Linked DNA regions of Homo sapiens: region 2 is linked to region 1. The links come from fine-mapping of genetic effects on gene expression. A gene starts in region 1. The other region holds a variant in brackets. All regions are shown on one strand. Distances are between the middles of the regions.

Evidence for each region. PIP is the estimated chance that this variant, and not a neighbour inherited with it, causes the effect.
Region 2: its variant is the best candidate, but not a certain one, in a credible set for the expression of SLC4A8 in substantia nigra (GTEx, PIP 0.87).

What each region holds. Positions count from the first base shown.
Region 1 is chr12:51,422,419-51,427,785 of GRCh38, reverse strand. SLC4A8 (solute carrier family 4 member 8) reads right to left here and starts at 2,955. Exons shown (of 25, transcript NM_001039960.3): 1 at 2,751-2,955. The coding sequence starts at 2,798. SLC4A8-AS1 (SLC4A8 antisense RNA 1) reads left to right here and starts at 2,458. Exons shown (of 3, transcript XR_001749147.2): 1 at 2,458-2,546; 2 at 3,187-3,299. RefSeq lists an enhancer at 2,337-2,396 and silencers at 2,507-2,716, 2,987-3,196.
Region 2 is chr12:51,351,293-51,356,663 of GRCh38, reverse strand. GALNT6 (polypeptide N-acetylgalactosaminyltransferase 6) reads left to right here. Exons shown (of 12, transcript NM_007210.4): 11 at 706-858; 12 at 2,172-5,371. The coding sequence ends at 2,285. Among named protein-coding and RNA genes, the nearest start is that of CELA1, 7.3 kb to the right of the region's middle. The variant C/T (reference allele first, on the strand shown) is at 2,122.

The DNA.
Region 1 (5,367 bases):
GCTCACATCTTCCAAAACAGCACAGCCTTATGATATTTAGAGGTGATGTCTGGAACCTCTCTGTTTACATCAAGTTACACAATCTGCTCACTTTACAAGGCCCATCTCCACACAGCCTAGTTAGCACATAGAAGGTTTAATTGGTCATTGCCAGTCAGTTGACTGTCTCTCCCCCAAGTCATCCCCATTTCCTTTCCTCCTTCTACCCTCATTCTCTTTTCCTCCCTATCTCTCAAATTTCCATTTGCCTATTACCTGACTCCAGCCTTCATGAGGTCCTACTGTTCCCATTGTATTCCTTTTCTTCTCCTCACCCTACCACCCAAGAAAGTTTCACAAACTAGATATAAAGGAGATATTTTCTATCCTACTCCAGAAGTACTCAAGAATTACTAATTTCACAGAACACTAACAGAAACCTAAGGGTCATGATGCCCTCAATAATATAACCTGTAAACATTCTGCATGTTAAGGACACTGTATCCTCACATCCATTCCAACCTATTCTCCCCACTGCAGCCAAAGAAATCTTTCAGTAGGAAAATCTGGGCCGGGCACGGTGGCTCACGTCTGTAATCCCAGCACTTTGGGAGGCCGAGGCGGGCAGATCACGAGGTCAGGAGATCAAGACCATCCTAGCTAACACGGTGAAACCCTGTCTCTACTAAAAATACAAAAAATTAGCCGGGCGTGGTGGAAGGCGCCTGTAGTCGCAGCTACTCCGGAGACCGAGGCAGGAGAATGGCGTGAACCTGGGAGACGGAGCTTGTAGTGAGTGGAGATCGCACCACTGCACTCCAGCCTGGGCGACAGAGCAAGACTCCATCTCAAAAAAAAAAAAAAAGAAAAGAAAAAAAAAAGAAAATCTGTTCATGATCTCATTTACTCTCTCATGCCCTCTCTCTCTCTCCCGGTTAGGAGAGACCCCCTCTCTCCCCTTTCCCCTCTACTTAAACCCCTTCAGTGGCTTCCCCTTGTTCCTCAGATAAATGTCAACTTCCTCAGCATGGGCTCCAAATGGCCCTGTGTGTTATAACCCCAGAACACATCTCATATACCATTCCCCTCATCGCTCCTTGTTGCTGCACCACACTGGCCTCATTTCAGGTCTCTAACCAGGTGTGTCCCCCTCTGCCACAGGTCTTTTGTGTAGCTGTTCTCTTTGCCTCTCAGGCCCTGTGATCCCCCTCTTCCCTCAGTTAACATTTATTCATCCTTTAGCTCTTTGCCCAGATTTTCTTCCTTAGCAAAATCTTCTCTGAGACCATGTCTGGAACCACTGTTATACACGCTTATGGCACTGCCTATCTTTCTTCAAAGCATTTATCACAGTTTATGATATTTATTTGTGTGATATTTGATTAAAAATAGTACTTCTCCCCTCCCCCACTAAATGATACGCTCCAGGAGGGCAAGAACATTGCCTATTTTTTCTTACCATTGTATCCCAAACAGAGATTGAATACATTTAATAGGCTTTAAGGGGGTTAGATATGCATTTTCCAAAATCTTAGATATTGTTCTTTTCAGACAGAGCAAGGAAAGAAGGATGTATCTTCTATTAATTGTAGCAAACTATTAACCAGGAAGAAGAGGAGAGAGTCAGTGTCTGATACTCATTTTGTTGCAAACTCAGGATATTTTCCCTGCCTCCTCGGGGAAACCATCCCTGAGGTCAACATGGCACTTGTTTCCAAGACGTGTCATCCTTCCTGAGATGGCCCATTACCCTCTTCAGAGCCCTGTACTTCAGACTTGCCTCCTCTTCCAACCCTCTTTCCAAGGCAGAAACCACACCATCTGATTGCACAGGAAACGGGGAGTGAGAATTCAATGGGCTGCCACTCATTCACTGAGTGTCACACAATAAACATTACTCCACAAAGCCCTTTCACAAACAGCACTTCGTCTGATCCTCAAAACAACCCTGTGAAGCATGCAAAGCAGACATAACTATTCCCATTTTAATAGCTGGGGAAACTGAGGTTCAAAGAGGCAAGTGACTTACTCAAGGTCACAAAGTTTGTGTGAGGCAGAGGTAGGATTTCAAACTACAGACTCTAACACTTAGTCCAATGCTTTTCCTTACATTAGCCGCCCCAACAGTTCCAATACCAGTTACTTAACCTTGGTTTTTTAATTCCCTTAAATAAGCACCTGTTCCTGACCCCTCCACACATCCTCAGCCCAGTTTGCAGTCCCTACCCAGAAGTTTTCAGGTGTCTGTTCAATGGGGCAGAGGGAGTCACAAACCGGGTCACCCTATCAGGGATTGGTCCCAGCCTCCAGAGTCTTTTCTGGCTTTTCCTCTGAACCACTGAGGAACCAGAAACCCCCAGAAATAAAAACACAAAGAGAAGACGTGCCCCACCAGAGCAAGGTCCCTGCTACCCTTTCTGCCCACGTTCTGGCAGGACAACGCGAGGCCAGACGCCGGCCCCTTCCAACAGAAAGACGCGAGGAGAACAAGAGGTCGCCGCCCGCCGGCTGTCAGGGCTCCTGGGCGGGCGGCGCAAGGGATGCGGCAGAGATGGGCCAGATCCCAGGTTCGGCCCAAGGTCACTCTCTCGCAGCCCTGGCCTGGTCCCCAACCGCCCGGAGCGCCCCCTGGTGTCCCGGGCTGGCCTCCCCTCGCCCTCAGGGAGCGGCCTGGGAAGCCTGGGCTCGGGGGCAGAAGGAAGGAGGGTGGGCAGAGGATGAGGAGGCTGCGCCCCGGGGAGGAGCGGGAGGCGCGGGAGGCGGGGCCCTACCTGATAGCTGAGGACGCCGTCCGGCTCGTTACTCCCGGCGGCCGGCATGGCGGAGCCGAACTAGGTCTCCCCCACGGGCTCCAAGCCAAGCATCAGCAGCCCGCGCCCTCTGGTCGGGTCTGAGCAGATCACTCGAACGGCGACCCCCACCCCGGAGCCAACGGTCAACCATCAACCGCCGCCGCCTCCATAGCCACCGGCCCGCGAGGCATCCGCCGCAACCAATCAGCGAGAGGCCTGCGCAGCCAATCAGGGCGCGGAGCACGGGAGGACGCTGTCCGGCGGTACCCTGGGCTACCGCGGGGAGGGGGAGGAGCCGGGGAGCCAACCGCTCCCGGGCCCGGTTGCCTTGGAAACCGCCTCCCTCCCTTCAGGGGCCTCTGGGCGTGAAGGTCCTTCCAACTGCTTGCTAGAAAATCTCTGCTTCTATTTGCAGCTGCACCTGACCCTTGAAAACTGGGAAAGTGTCGGTTTTGCCTATTCTGATTTCATTCCTTGGGAGATGATGTTTAAATTCCGGGCAAACATCCTTCGCGATTGCAGGAGGAGGTAATTGCGGATGAGGGGAGAGGGCCTTCTAAAATTAATTGTTTTTCCTTGAGCTAATGGCCAGATTAAAGAGCATTAAATTGAAGAAGGCAGGCAGTGTCAGGCTCCCTCACAGTCTCACTATGACTTAGGTCTTCTTCTTGAGTCTCAAGTCAGAAGCAAAACACACGGACAGGGTCGAGCTAAGGATGACTGTTGAAGCAATTCCACAAAAAGGCTTCGAACTTTTCCAGGAAATGATCTAAGGCAAACTATTATTTAGCAACAGAACTACTGACTTAACACAAGGTTAGAATATCATGAATAATGCATTAAATTTGATTTGGATTTATAAGAAAAGAGAGGCTGGCTAAAATCGAAGCAACCCTCTCTCCTCAAGAAAAAGAAAGGTACCTTTTGGGTTTTTTTTGTTTTTTTTTTGTTGTTTTTTTTGTTTTTTTTTTTTTTTTGGAGACGAAGTTTCACTCTTGTTGCCCAGGCTGGAGTGCAATGGCGTGTTCTTGGATCACTGCAACCTCCGCCTATCCAGTTCAAGCGATTCTCCTGCCTCAGCCTCCTGAGTAGCTGGGATTACAGGTCCCCACCACCACGCCCGGCTGATTTTTTTGTATTTGTAGTAGAGACGGGGTTTCACCATGTTGGCCAGGCTGGTCTGGAACTCCTGACCTCAGGTGATCTGCCCGCCTCAGCCACCCAAGGTGCTGGGATTACAGGCGTGAGCCATGGCACCCGGCCGTGGGGCCTTTTGTTTTATATGCACTATCATACCAGACTTCAGGTAGGTCCAAATTGGGGTCAGGGGAAGAATTGTTGCAAATAATTCTCAGCCCCTAAAGAAGCTACAGTTGGGGAAGGTAGTCTGATACATGTTAAAACTTTCCACCCCTGCTTACCATCCTTTGTGTTGGTCCTGAAATTGGAAACAAGGTTGGGCTTCAGTATCCCTGAAGCAGAATTGTATTTCTGATGTCCTGTATAAGCCTCCTGTCTAGTCTCTGCGTTTTAGTGTTCATTGCCACACACTCCATCAATCTCTTTACTAATCCTGTCATCTTGAATCTGGAATTCACATCCTACCCTCATCCCCATTTTTGTCCATCAAAATCTTAACCATCCTTCAAAGTTAATCTCAAAAGCCACCCTCTTCCAAGAAGCCTTTCTTTATTCTACTGTCCCTGATACCCCTAACAGATGTCATCTCACCCTCCCCAGAATTCTCAAGGCACTTCATACCTTTCTTATAGCAGTTGTCATGCTGTGGTTATTTAAGTACTTTATATGTTGACTTTAGCTTACTAAAATATTATAAGTTCTTTGAAAGCAATGATTATTTTTCTTATGCCCTTCTGTATACTCAACAGAGCCTCAACCAATCCCAGGCACATAGAAAGTACTTAGTAAATATGAATGCTTTTAATTCAATCTAATAAAAAATGTATTGAACACCTACTAATGAACAGGCCCAAGTAACACTGTAGAGGCAGAGAAATCTAAAATATATATCTCCAAGGGAGCTTAACAGGCTTATCAGGGAAACAGGGTATATGTTAATGAGTAATATTATATAAACCATGAAGATTGCAAAAATTCAGAAGAGAAAATGATCTTCAGGAAGGTTTCACAGAGGACATGGATTCGAGCTAAGTCTGAAAACATGGGTAAGATTTAGCTGACCCAAGGTAAGAAGAGCAAGCATCTCAAGTCTTAGGCAAAGACTTAAGAATAATAATGCACATGGCCCATTCAGGGTAGCCACAATTTGGGCCAAAGCAGAAAGTTATTGAGAAGAGCAGTGGGAGGTAATAGTTGTGATAGAGAAAGGCTGTGGGCTGGGCATGGTGGCTCACACTTGTAATCCCAGCACTTTGGGAGGCCAAGACAGATGGATCCCTTGAACCCAACAGTTCAAGACCAACTTGGGCCAACATGTAGAAATTCCATCTCTATTTTTAAAATACAAAAAAATTAGCCAGGCATGGTGGCATGCACCTGCAGTCCCAGCCCCTCAGGAAGCTGAAGTGGGAGGATCACCTGAGCCCAGGAGAGGCTTCAGTATACCACTCCACTC
Region 2 (5,371 bases), 71 kb after region 1:
GATTAGGCACGGTAGCCCACACCTGTAATCCCAGCACTTTGGGAGGGTGAGGCAGGTGGATCACATGAGCCTAGGAGTTTGAGACCTGTCTGGGCAACATAGCAAGACACCCCATCTCTATAAAAAATTTTTAAAAAATTAGCTGAGTGTGGTGCTACACGCCTGCAGTCTCAGCTACTCAGGAAGCTGACATGGAGGATCGCTTGAACAAACGAATTCAAGGTTGCAGTGAGCTATGATCATGCCACCACACTCTAGCTTAAGCAACAGAGCAAGACCCTGCCTCAAAAAAAAAAAAAAAAAAAAAAAAGAGAAAATATACTGGTTGGGCGCAGTGGCTCACACCTGTAATCCCAGCACTTTGGGAGGCCAAGGTGGGAGGATCACTTGAGCTCAGGAGTTTGAGACCAGCTTGGGCAACATAGCAAGACCCCATCTCATAAAAAAGAATTTTATATACATATACATATATATATACACACATATATATATACACACACACATATATATATATGTATATAAAATTCCAGCATAACCCTGATATGGTAACAATCCTGAAGGCAGCACATAAATGAGTAAAGTCTTGGCATGGCCTCACATTCACTCTCCTCCCCAGGAGACCATGCATGGTAGACAGCTCAGGGCAGGTGGCTTTGGAAGGCTGGGGGTGAACTCTCCACCTGCTTCTCTTGTCTTGATTTCCAGTACTTTGAGTACACAACTCAGAGGGACCTTCGCCACAACATCGCAAAGCAGCTGTGTCTACATGTCAGCAAGGGTGCTCTGGGCCTTGGGAGCTGTCACTTCACTGGCAAGAATAGCCAGGTCCCCAAGGACGAGGAATGGGAATTGGCCCAGGTGAGTCAGTGTCCAGAAAGCTCAGAATCAAGAACTTGAGGCCAGGTGTGGTGGCTCACGCCTGTAATCCCAGCACTTTGAGAGGCCGAGGAGGGCAGATCACGAGGTCAGGAGTTCGAGACCACCTGGCCAACATGGTGAAACCCCATCTCTACTAATAATACAAAAATTAGCTGGGCATAGTGGTCGGCGCCTATAATCCCAGCTACTCAGGAAGCTGAGGCAGGAGAATTGCCGGAACCCAGGAGGCGGAGGTTGCAGTGAGCTGAGGTCGTGCCATTGCAGTCCAGCCTGGGTGACAGAGCAAGACTCCATCTTGGGAAAAATAAAAAATAAAAAGAGAACTTGAGGCCACATCGGCCCCTCTATATTTTCTTCATTTTCTTCCTGAGACGCCATGGGGTGGAGTAGAGCAATGTAGAAGGTAGGTGAGTGTGTGTGTGGCCACAGGCAGGGTTCTTCAGGCTTAAAGGGTATTTGGTGATGACTGATGTAAAAATGGGGTGACAGGTTATGGTTCGTGGCTAGCTCTGCCATGGCTGAAGCATTTTTAGGCTGAACCCAATTAGAAGAAGGTGAAGAGTCATTCATAGTTCCTGCTTGTCCTCTGTGTCCTAGGCTCAAAGCTAGGCACTCACATGCCTGGGTCCAGTTAATCTTTCAGAGGCTCTTTCCAAGCAGGAATAGTCACTGTTTCTACAGATGAGCTGGAGCCGGAGGAAGCCCAGCATGTCTGTGACTGGCCCAAGACCCATCACTAGTAAATGGCAGGCCTGGGATTTAGCCCCAGATGGGTCTGACTTGAAAGCACGGGCTCTTTCCATTACACCACACTGCTCCAGGATATGCCATGTAACCGCCACCATGCTGAGCTCAAGCCAGCACCCCAAGTGAGCCTCCCTACTCCACCCCAGCTTAGGAAAGAGGAACCTAACCTGGAGGCTGCAGGGAAGGGAGCAGTCTAAACATAATCCAAGGCAGAAAATTGGAGGTGGAGCAGTGGCCCTGGGTCTTTGAGCCTGGCCATCTGGGGGTGCGGGAGGCCCTGAAAGCATTTTTCTCTCAGCCCATGGTCTTGTCTTTCACCATTTCATCCACTCAGTCTGAAGCTAGGGATGGGGATTTGGCACCAGATAGAGGTGGGAACTCAGGAATGTGTCTCATGAGAGGGCAGGAAAGGAATGGGGAAGTGTCCTCTTTGTGCCTTGTGGGGTTCCCTTGGCTTTTGTCAATTGCACCCCATCGCATTGTCCCTGGTAGCAC[C/T]GTTAAGAGGTCTGTGGCCCAGACTGACCTTTTGCTTTGTCATCTTTTAGGATCAGCTCATCAGGAACTCAGGATCTGGTACCTGCCTGACATCCCAGGACAAAAAGCCAGCCATGGCCCCCTGCAATCCCAGTGACCCCCATCAGTTGTGGCTCTTTGTCTAGGACCCAGATCATCCCCAGAGAGAGCCCCCACAAGCTCCTCAGGAAACAGGATTGCTGATGTCTGGGAACCTGATCACCAGCTTCTCTGGAGGCCGTAAAGATGGATTTCTAAACCCACTGGGTGGCAAGGCAGGACCTTCCTAATCCTTGCAACAACATTGGGCCCATTTTCTTTCCTTCACACCGATGGAAGAGACCATTAGGACATATATTTAGCCTAGCGTTTTCCTGTTCTAGAAATAGAGGCTCCCAAAGTAGGGAAGGCAGCTGGGGGAGGGTTCAGGGCAGCAATGCTGAGTTCAAGAAAAGTACTTCAGGCTGGGCACAGTGGCTCATGCCTGAAATCCTAGCACTTTGGGAAGACAATGTGGGAGAATGGCTTGAGCCCAGGAGTTCAAGACCGGCCTGAGCAACATAGTGAGGATCCCATCTCTACGCCCACCCTCCCCCCGGCAAAAAAAAAAAGCTGGGTATGGTGGCTTATGCCTGTAGTCGCAGCTACTCAGAAGGCTGAGGTGGGAGGATTGCTTGTTCCCCGGAGGTTGAAGCTACAGTGAGCCTTGATTGTGTCACTGCACTCCAGCCTGGGCAACAGGTAAGACTCTGTCTCAAAAAAAAACAAAAAAGAAGAAGAAAAGTACTTCTACAGCCATGTCCTATTCCTTGATCATCCAAAGCACCTGCAGAGTCCAGTGAAATGATATATTCTGGCTGGGCACAGTGGCTCACACCTGTAATCCTAGCACTTTGGGAGGCCAAGGCAGGTGGATCACCTGAGGTCAGAAGTTTGAAACCAGCCTGGACTACATGGTGAAACTCCATCTCTACTAAAAGTACAAAAATTAGCTGGGCATGATGGCACGCACCTGCAGTCCCAGCTACTTGGGAGGCTGAGGCAGGAGAATCACTCGAACCCAGGAGGCAGAGGTTGCAGTGAGCCAAGACAGCACCATTGCACCCCAGCCTGAGCAACAAGAGCGAAACTCCATCTCAGGAAAAAAAAAAAAAAAAAAAGTATATTCTAACAGACAGATCAGAGGTCTAAGAGATCCTCCCTTGCTATTATTACCTGAAGTCTGTAGAACTGTTTACAGATATCTCCTTGACAGGTGTCCTTTATCTTACTTTATCTGTACAGTAATCCTGTGAGAAAGACAGGACAGAAACCACTGTGCCTATTTTACAGATACGAAAACTGAGACACAGGTAAAGGGGCTTGTCTGTAGTCCCATAGCTAGCAGATGGCTGGAGCCAAGACTGAGGCTCGTTCTTCAATGCTGAGCCAGGGCTCCTTCCGCTGCACCACAAGAACGCTAGACCACTCGCCACCAGCCTTCTCATTCCCTCTTCCTCCATTCTAATCATTTCTAGCTGGCTGGCCTCCACAGAGCATAGGAAAACAGCCAGGGCCGGGCACGGTGGCTCATGCCTGTAATCTCAACACTCTGGGAGGCCGAGCCGGGTGGATAACCTGAGGTCAGGAATTCGAGACCAGCCTGGCCAACATGGTAAAACCCCATCTCTACTAAAAATATAAAAATTAGCCAGGCATGGTGGCGCACACCTGTAATCCCAGCTACTCAAGAGGCTGAGGCAGGAGAATTGCTTAAATCTGGGAGGCGGAAGTTGCAGTGAGCCAAGATCGCGCCACTGAACTCCAGCCTAGGCAACAAGAGCAAAACTCCATCTCCAAAAAAAAGAAAGGAAAAACAGGGCCAGGTAGCCATTGTGGAGAGAGCACACTTAGGAATCCTGGGATGTTAGTGTTAAAAGAAAGCTCCTGGAGCCAGTGATTCTCAGGTTTGTCCCAGAACCCTTTTTTCTAAGCCCCATATAAAAGGTAGATTAAAAAAACAAAGTAGCATGAGTGAAATTGAGAGAGGGACAGGTAATGCCTTCCAGCCCCTAACTTCTAACAATCTGGAAGCACAACGTGAAAATCACGTAGCCCAACCCTATCATTTTCATATTATGAAACTGAGTCCAGGTAAGTGAATCTGTCCAAGGTCACCCAGCAAGGTATCAGTAGCCCTGAGGGTAAGGACTCTGATAAGGCTCGGGAGGGTCCTGGAAAGCCTGAGGCGGCAGGAAGAGTGTGCAGAGTTGAGCGTGTCTGGAAGGCTGATCCACTGCTGGGCCCACATCAAAGCCCCCATGGGGAGCAGACCCGACTGCACATGGCTCTTTTGCTGGAAGAAGAGCATGGCTGCGCAGAGGACTAAAATTTCATCTGGGAAGGCTTCTTTTGACTGTCAGTAGCAGGATGTCACCAGATGAGGGTGCTATGGGACCACAGCTGTCTTTGTTCCCATTGCAACTCAACCCTGCGGGAGGCCGCCTACATCCCTGAGAGCCTTCTGGAGCCTACAGAGGAGACATTGGCCAGCCAAAAGGAAAGGAGTGGCCAGGGTACGACCTGGAGTAGGGAAGGGAAAAAGTTCCCGGAAAGAAGAGAATTGGATGAGAGGTCTCAGTGGAAATAAAGGTTTTCTGGCATTGGTCAAGGAAACTCGCGTTGTGTTCTCTTACCTGTGTTGTCCCTTAGCTGAATCAGTTGATTTGGGCTATGAAGAACCACACACATCTGAAAAGTTCTGTTACAGCCACTGTCTCATGTCCCCAAACATTCTCTGGCCCTAAATCTAGCTTATGTATTGTGTCAAGCACGTGGAGACGTGAGACGTCAAACGAGGTCCTGTCCCCGTGGAACTCACACGCTAAATGTAAGCAAATCATAGCAAGCCTGGAGATGCTCCAAGAGGTGCTGGATGAGTTAGAAGGAGCAATTCCTTCCACTTAGGGAATCAGATAAGGCCTCACAAAGATGGCAATGTTTGACCTAAGACCTCGGAAGATGAGTCCTCAGATGGGAAGGGCTCAATAAGCAGAGTTGTTACACAGGCAGCAGCCTGGCAGGAGCAAAGCCACAGAGGACATGTGGCCCCAGTGGGTCTGAGAAACCCAGAGGACATTGGGGTGAGGGAGTGACTGGTGTAGAAGCTGGAAGATCAGAGTTACATCATGAATTTCAGGGGCCCTAGGCACTTTAGCCTTCACGGAGCTCTTGCTCCATTCAAAAAAAAATT